Linked DNA regions of Homo sapiens: region 2 is linked to region 1. The links come from fine-mapping of genetic effects on gene expression. A gene starts in region 1. The other region holds a variant in brackets. All regions are shown on one strand. Distances are between the middles of the regions.

The links. PIP is the estimated chance that this variant, and not a neighbour inherited with it, causes the effect.
Region 2: its variant is fine-mapped to the expression of NARF in whole blood (TOPMed, PIP 0.97).

What each region holds. Positions count from the first base shown.
Region 1 is chr17:82,456,184-82,460,567 of GRCh38, forward strand. NARF (nuclear prelamin A recognition factor) reads left to right here and starts at 2,558. Exons shown (of 11, transcript NM_012336.4): 1 at 2,558-2,647; 2 at 3,809-3,889. The coding sequence starts at 2,621. NARF-AS2 (NARF antisense RNA 2) reads right to left here and starts at 2,336. Exons shown (of 3, transcript NR_184099.1): 1 at 1,490-2,336; 2 at 1,255-1,365. RefSeq lists enhancers at 1,897-2,046, 2,480-3,312 and a silencer at 2,077-2,896.
Region 2 is chr17:82,478,978-82,483,361 of GRCh38, forward strand. NARF (nuclear prelamin A recognition factor) reads left to right here. Exons shown (of 11, transcript NM_012336.4): 7 at 2,105-2,234. Among named protein-coding and RNA genes, the nearest start is that of TRX-CAT1-8, 14 kb to the right of the region's middle. The variant G/A (reference allele first, on the strand shown) is at 2,617.

The DNA.
Region 1 (4,384 bases):
TTCCGTCTTCCTTTGGACATCCAAGCTGTCCAGTTGTTCCTGGGCATAAGCCAAGCTAATTTTAGGAGCTTTGGGAGGAATTTACAGTTTAACCTTGAAACAAGGATGATAATAGTCCCTTCCTAAAACTATCACCTCCCACTTCTGGGGCTGAAATTGCCTTTGTAAAGCTAATGAAAGGCCACAAGGTTAGGATTGTGGGAGTGGCCTGAACTCTGCTAAAATGCAGGCCTAGTTTCTACAGTCCCTCACTGCTCAGGACTCATGTGGCCAGAGGTCACAAAATTTGCAACTTCCCGAATTGCACCTATAGATAATATCAGTATTGCAGGACCTAAGAATGGCTTTTTGAGATGTTTTTCAGAGTGAACCCACCCCAACCTGCTACTCAGGACTCAATTGGTTTCTGTGGCCCCACCCAGAGGCAGACTCAGTGCTTGAGGACCGTTTTCCACACACCCTTTTGATTTCATTCCCAGTCAATCAGCAGCATCCATTCCCTAGCCCCCTGCCCACCAAATTGTCCATAAAAACCCTAACTGCGGCCAGGCGTGGTGGCTCATGCCTGTAATCCCAGCACTTTGGGAGGCCGAGGCAGGCGGATCACAAGGTCAGGAGTTCAAGACCAGCCTGGCCATTATGGTGAAACCCCATCTCTACTAAAAAATACAAAAATTAGCCAGGCGTGGTGGCGTGTGCCTGTCGTCCCAGCTACTTAGGAGGCTGAGGTAGGAGAATCGCTTGAACCTGGGAGGTGGAGGTTGTAGTGAGCCGAGATTGTGCCACTGCACTCCAACCTGGGTGACAGAGTGAGACTCCGTCTCAAAAACAAAAACAAAAAAACAAAAAACAAACTCCTAACTGCTGAGCCTTTGGAGAGACTGATTTGAGTAGTAACTGTCTCCTGTGTGGCCTGCCAGGTGTCAATTAAACTCTTTTCCCGGCCTGCTGCAATCTTGATGAATTGACTTTTTGTCTGTGCAGTGGGCAGGAAGAACCCGATGGGCAATGGCAAGCTGAAGAATGATGAGATTCATAAATCTGGAAAGGAGAGCTTTACTTCTCATAAAGGGTTTCAGCCTGCAGGGTGGCCATTCTGACAGACAGGGAAGCACTGCCTCTGGCCAGAAGCCAGAAACAGACACTTCCAGGGAGGGGCAAAGGGAACAGGAATCTATGAGGTGCAGTGTGTAAATATACATATTTATCAAGCTACAGGAGAAGTCATGAATATTTTTGAAGAGAGAAACATACACAAACACAATGAAGCTTCAGGCCCCTTCACGAGGGTCATGTCATCTCACCAGAACCACTCCATGGTCAGTGTCTCTTATCAGTAAGGAATACTGGTCAATTGGGCCGAAACTGCAAATGAGAGAGTTGTTATCAGCGGTGGAGTCTTTCGAAAGCGCTGGTTTCCGTTAAGCTCTTAGCCAAGAAAACCTAATGGTAGTTAGCCAAGGGTTGGCCTTAATAACAGGTGTCTCACCTCCCATCTGTCATGGCTGAGAACTGCCTTCAAGGCAACCCTGGGATCTCCTTAGCCAGTAGGGGGTTCGTGTAGTCAGTTGGGGGTCTTTGGATTTCATTTTCATTTCTCAGAGGACAGGAAGGAAGGCTCTAACATGGGGAATCCTGAGAACTGCTGCTGTCTGTTAAATACGCCTACAAGTTATTTTTCTTATGTCACACTCTCCCAGACATGTTCTTACTTCTCATTTCTGATTTCTGTAATACACACACACTGATTTCATAAAACGTTTATGAGTCCAACACTTCCATTATAGCCCTGTATCAATGTTTTGCTTAGCTGAAATCAATTTCTTGGAGGAGTAAGTGTTATCTTTACTTTGTAAGCTGTAAGGGCCCAAATCAATGTACTTGGTAAAACTATCCATAGTGAACACACGCAAATGTCAAATGGCCATCATTTAGCATCTGCCCTCGGGCTTCCGGGTCCATCACGTGGTTACTGACAGGCAGGCCGCGCATGCGCGCTGCTACTCCGCCGAGCCTACGTGACACGACGTCAAGTGGCAATGGCGGCGGACGAGGGCTGTGCCCCCGGCCCGCCCCGTTAGGAGCCGCGAGTAAGGCGAGTGTCCAACGCCGAGCTGGCTGACAGAGCCCGGCCGCGGCCTCCGCGGGCCCAGGGGCCTCCAGGCCCCGTGACCACCGGACCGAGCACCCTGGAACGGCCCCAGCTTGGCCTCGGGACAGTCCGCGCGCTCACCGACTCCCTGGTGAACGCCGCTTGGCCGCCGCCGCCGCCGCAGGACCCACGAGAAGCGGAAACCGGCGCAAGGACCCGGTCCCCCCGGCGCCGTACGTGGAGTGAGCCTGCGGTCCGCCCCGCGCGCTCCGATTGGCTCTGGGGCCTGGCCCGCCCCTTCCCGACACTGTCATTGGCCTAGGCAAAGCCGTAAGGGTGGGGAATCCTATTGGCCCAGGGGTGCGGCTTGTCCTCTCCCGGTGCTCTCATTGGCCGAGCGCGGCCGTTGGGGGTGAGGCCGCGTCGGGGGAGGACAACAAAGGGCCGCGGGCGGCGGGCAGTGGTGTCCCAGTCTCCCGGTGCTTCCCTGAGGCTGAGGCGCCCGGCCTCCCGCCCGCCGCGCTCCAGATGAAGTGTGAGCACTGCACGCGCAAGGTGAGCGCCGCGGGCCGGGGAGGCGCGCGCCTGGTGCTTGTCCTGTGGGGCTCTGGGCGGCCGAGGTTGGCGGTCCGGGCCCGCCGCTCGCTCGCTTCAGGGCTCTTCAAGGCGCCCCCGGCCTCGGCACCCTGGGCCCGCTCGGCGTGGAGGCGGCCGGCGCGGGGTCCGCTGCGCTCTGCAGGGCGGGTTCGGTCTTCGCGGTTCTCCCTGAACTTGTCCATCTTTCCCACGCCCGCGAAGCGCGGAAACGCACGGAGACCGAGCCTCTCGTGCCGCGCACCACAGTCCGAGTAAACAGCGGTCGTGGCGGGAATGATCAGAAGCGTTTCGAGAGGGTTTTAGGCGTTTTCGAACCTGCCCCTCTGAGGGTCACCGAGCAGCCGGTGCAGGGGCGGAAGCGGGTGACGGCTGCTGACCGGCGCCTTCCGCGGTTGTCTCCAGGCCATGGCAACAACCGCGCAGCGCACGCAGGGGGGTTTTGTAGCTGTTATTGCCGGAATGGGCTCCTGTGGATGCTGCTCTGTGGCTGGCACTTCTGCGCGTGACGCCGTGGCAGGAGGCTTCCTAACATTCCATGGGTCGTTCATCCCCGGTGGTGGCTGCGTCCTATTCTAAGTACACCTGTGTCCAGGGGAATTCGCCTGTGGGGTGAAGGCTACAGTTGCTTCTGCTTTTTTATTATTGTAAACAATAGAGATGTGTGTGTGTCCTTCAGTACCTGTTTCACTAGAAGGGTTAGAAGGATAGAAGGCCAGGCACGGTGGCTCAAGCCTGTTATCCCAGCACCTTGGGAGGGGAGGCCGAGGCGGGTGGATCACCTGAGGTCAGCAGTTCAAGACCATCGTGGCCAACATGGCGAAACCCAGTCTCTACTAAAAATATAAAATTAGCTGGGTGTGGTGGCGCACACCTGTAATCCCAGCTACTCAGAAGGCCGAGGCAGGAGAATCGCTTGAACCCGGGAGGTGGAGGCTGCAGTGAGCCGAGATTGCGCCCCTGCACTCCAGCCTGGGTGAGAGCGAGACTCCGTCTAAAAAAATAAATAAATAAACTAAAAGAAAGGATAGAAATACATGAGCTTCATTGGTCAGAATGTGCACATTTTCTTAAGGGAGACGAAGTAAAAGTTCATTGATAATGTTCCTTTGCTTTTTTAAGGAATGTAGTAAGAAAACAAAAACTGATGACCAAGAGAATGTGTCAGCCGATGCACCGAGTCCAGCCCAGGAAAATGGAGAGGCAAGTAGATTTTTCAGTTTTGTATCAGCCCAGAGTAAACTACTGCTGCTGTTTTTCTCTTTGGGGGCTCACAGCACCGTGCACATCACTGCTTTAAAGAAGACTGAAGTACGCGGGCATGGTGGCTCACGCCTGGAATCCCAGCACTTTGGGAGGCCGAGGTGGACGGATCACTTGAGGTCAGGAGTTTGAGACCAGCCTGGCCAACATGGTGAAACCTTATCTCTGCTAAAAATACAAAAATTATCCAGGTATGGTGGTGTACGCCTGTAATCCCAGCTACTCAGGAGGCTGAGGCAGGAGAATTGCTTGACCCTGGAAGACAGAGGTTGCAGTGAGCTGAGATTGTACCACTGTACTTCAGCCTGGGCAACAGAGTGAGACTCTGTCCCAAAAAAAAGACTGAAATAGGCCAGGCGTGGTGGCTCATGCCTGTAATCCCAGAACTTTGGGAGGCCGAGGCAGGCGGATCATGAGATCAGGAGATTGAGACTA
Region 2 (4,384 bases), 23 kb after region 1:
CCCAGGAAGGGGAGGTTCCCCATCTGTCCAGCGTGGTCACGGCCCCCCAGGTGAGCAAAAAGGAAGCTGTGGCTTCAGGAAACATCAGCAGTGCTGTTTCTCACCAACGCCCGTCTCTATTCCTCCCTTCCTCTTACAACCTTTTTCTTTCTTCTTAACCTTTTCTGTGGCATCTGGTGGTTTTCCTGGGCCCATTCGGGGTAGAGTAGAAATGCTGCCCACCCTGCTGAGAATGAGGCCCCGGACCTTGCCCAGAGATGCTGCCTGCCTGCTGTTGGGATGCCTCACCCAAGGAGGCCTAAAGTGGCCTGTGCCTGGAGGCTGAGGGCAGCTGTCATTTAGGGAGCCAAACCTGGCCTCTGCCCTGGCCTTTCCCTCAGACCACGGGCATCACATGACTTCCTTAGCCACTTCTGTGAGATTCCACAGTGGCCATGATGCTGTCCTCCTCTTGATGGAGTGAGTCCCGGCCTGAGGCTCCTGCGTGCCCCCTGCCTCGGCCCGTCGTGTTCTCCCTTCCCACAACCCTCTGCGGCCCCCAGGTCCTCCCAGAACTCCCTGATGTCTCCAAGGCCACCCTCAAAGGGACCCTAATCCCATGGTTTATTCTCCAGCCGCTGGCATGCCCCACACTGCTCTTCTCAATCAGACTTTACACCTCCCTCCGGGGAAGCAGCCATGTCCAGGCACTGTGGTAACTGGAGTAGAGGGTAACATCAGGATCTTTCAGACATTTGAAGTCAGCCTAAAAAGGCACGCACATTTGGCAGCCTTGTTATTTTAGCAATAGGCAGTGTTTTCCTTCTATCTAGTTTCTTTCTACCCATAAAGTCATAATTTGGCAAATTATAAACATGATGTCAGAGTATACACGTTCAGTTTAGGCAGGACCGAAAAATGAGCTATGGGACTTTCTGTCCCTTGCCCTGCCCCCACCTGAAGAGAGCCATGTGTTTCTAGGTCTTCCACGTGCTGCCCTCTCCCCTGGATGGAGCCCAGAGCTATGTGTCCTCCTGTAGGTGCCATGAGGGGCAGCCGCAGAGACCCGGCCTCCAGCAGCCTCTCACCTGACCACCTGGCACAGCTGCAACCAGGGGCGGGTTTCCTCTTTTGCTCCGCCCCTGCCCTGAGTGGGTCCTTTCCACCCAGACCTCACCACAGGGTCACTTGGCAACTGCTGGCTCCTGGCTTTGCCACCAGTTCAGGCCCAGCCACAGGCACCTGCTCTGTGTGGACCCAGGAGAGGGGTAGCTTGGGTGGGCATCGCTTGGGAAGATTCAGGAAAGTCTGTGGGTGAAGTAGCCAGCGCGCGCACACACACACACACACACACACTCACTCAGGCCTCCTGCAATGGCTCCATGCTGGACCAGCAACAGCTCCACGCCGGCTGGACTTCCTCTTACTTGTTTTGTCCCCATGTGCACAGGTTCAGGAGGAAATGGGCTCAGCCTTCCCGGTTCTTCCAGGAGGCTCCACTGGCTGGGGGGCTTTGCAGATGTTTGGGAGGACCACACCCAGTCCTGAGGGAGGCAGCAGACAGACATGGATGGAGTGCTGGTGCTCGGTAGAGTTGAAGAGGGGATGGGAGCCAGATGTGGCTACAGCACTTTCATCTGTGGGGCCCGGCCTCAGACCCACAACAGTCCCAGCCCCAAGAAAGTGCTGCATGCAGCCAGGCTCGATGGCTCACGCCTGTAATTCTAGTACTTTGGAGGCCGAGGCGGGCAGATTGCCTGAGCTCAGGAGTTTGAGACCAGCCTGGGCAACACGGTGAAACCCCATCTCTACTAAAGTACAAAAAATTAGCCAGGCGTGGCGGCATGCGCCTGTAGTCCCAGCTACTCGGGAGGCTGAGGCAGGAGAATCGCTTGAACCCGGGAGGCAGAGTTTGCAGTGAGCTGAGATCACGCCACTGCACTCCAACCTGGTGACAGAGCAAGACTCCATTTCAAAAAAAAAAAAAAAAAAAGAGTGCAGCATGCAGTGTCTGGAGGGCAGCAGCAGGGGGCATTCGGTCTCCCATCCCTCTTGTTCTGGGCACCAAGCGTAAGCTGCCGTCACCTCTTCACCAGCCCTAAATATGGGTGCCCCTCTCCCACAGAACCTGTCTCCAGAGAAGATTTTCCACGTCATTGTGGCCCCTTGTTATGACAAGAAGCTGGAGGCTCTTCAGGAAAGCCTTCCCCCTGCTTTGCATGGCTCCCGGGGCGCTGACTGCGTGTTAACATCAGGTGAGAGGTGGGCGGGGGTGCACCTGGGCGCTGGGGTAATCTCCTACTGGCCAGTACACACCAGAGCCAGGCAGATCTGTGTCCCAGAGCCATCTCAGTGCCTGCCAATGTGGTCGCTTGTCTGAAGTTACTGACAGCTGAGGGTCCTAGGGGCTTAACTGCAGGTGAAGAGAAGGGTCATGTTCGATCTAGCCTCCTGTCTCCTCTGTGCATCTTCCTCAAGATAAATCAGGTCTCAGCTGGGCACAGTGGCTCACGCCTGTAATCTAAGCACTGGGAGGCCAAGGCAGGTGGATCACCTGAGGTCAGGAGTTCGAGACCAGCCTGACCAACATGGAGAAACCCCGTCTCTACTAAAACTACAAAAAACTAGCCGGGCATG[G/A]TGGCACATGCCTGTAATCCCAGCTGCTCGGGAGGCTGAGGCAGGAGAATCGCTTGAACCCGGGAGGCAGAGGTTGCAGTAAGCCGAGATCGCGCCATTACCCTCCAGCCTGGGCAACAAGAGTAAAACTTTGTCTCAAAAAAAAAAAAAAAAGATAAATCAGGTCCTGGGAGAACCACTTGGGCAGTGTGGTGGCCCTAACTTTACATTACAGTCCATGTAAGGTACTTATCTCTTGGTGGGAAAGTTGTCTATAGCCATAGCGGGTCTCCTAATCACAAACCAAGTCTGCACTTAAAACACAAGTGAAGTTTTTTTCATTCAGAATAAAATGAAAAAGGCACGTTTGCTCCAGTGATATTGCCTTTACCACGGTATTGGCCACTCCTTTCAGATGTTAAGAGCCTACAGTGAGTTCTGTGTGTGTTGTGGATGGAAGTGATTCCCTGGAATTATGTAGAACCCATTCAGAAGAATGTTGACATCAGTTGGTGGGGGAAGCTTAAGACTTTGTTAAAATTCTGGCGGAACTGTTTTAATTGGTCTCTGAAAACAGGTCCCTGCAGGTATTTAGATCAGTGGTAGATGAGGCAGAGAGGTCAGCTCTCAGGGACAATCTTTAAGGGCGCCAATGTCCCTCACAGGCCCCTGACTTGAAATTCTAGCACGCAGACGCCTCTGGAAAGGTCCCCACCCCATAGGCACAGGCTCCCTGTGGGGTGATGTGGCAGGGGTGTTGAAGGATGAGGGATAGAAGGGTCCTCAGCACGGCCATCCTTCACTCTCAGAGGAAGGGCCCAGGGGCCATCTGCTTACGTTGACAAAATAAAACATGCGCGGTGGGCTGTCAGAAGAACCATGTCCAGCCATCTTTTTTCTGAGTGCAGATTTATAGGAAATTACGCTATTTTCTTACCTGTGTTTCCAGCCATCTCACAGCATCTAATGTGATGCCACAGCCATAGTTTTAGAGGCTCAGTTTTTCTATTAAGGGTTTTTTCAGGCATCCTCATGTAAAAGGAAATACAGAAAGTGGTTCTCACTTTCAGTTGATCTCATTGCAGAATAAACAATTGTCATATAAATGTAGCTGGGTACAATGGCTCAGACCTCTAATTCCAGCCACTCAGGAGGCTATGGCTGGAGGATCACTTGAGCCCAGGAGTTTGAGACCTTGCTGGGCAACACAGTGAGACCTCGTCTCTTTTTTTTTATTTTTTGAGACGGAGTCTCACTCTGTCACCCAGGCTCTGCAGTGGCTCCATCTTGGCTCACTACAACCTCCGCGCCTCCTAGGATCAAGCGATTCTCCTCCCTCAGCCTCCCGAGTAGCTGGGATTACAGGTGCGCCCCACCACACCAGGCTAATTTTTGTGTTTTTAGTAGAGAGGGGGTTTCGCCATGTTGGCTAGACTGGCGACCTTGTTTCTTAAAAAAAAAAGGGCTGGGTGCAGTGGCTGACACGTGTAATCCCAGCACTTCAGGAGGCTGAGGCAGGCTGGTCACCTGAGGTCAGGAGTTCGAGACCAGTCTGGCCAACATGGTGAAACCCCCGTCTCTACTAAAAATACAAAAATTAGCCAGGCGTGGTAGTGCACACCTGTAATCACAGCTACTCAGGAGGCTGCGGCAAGAGAATCACTTGAACCCGGGAGGCAGAGGTTACAGCGAGACAAGATTGCACCACTGGACTCCAGCCTGGGCGGCGGAGGTGAGACTCCATCTCAAAAAAAAAAAAATGCAACCAGTGTATATTTCATCATCCTAT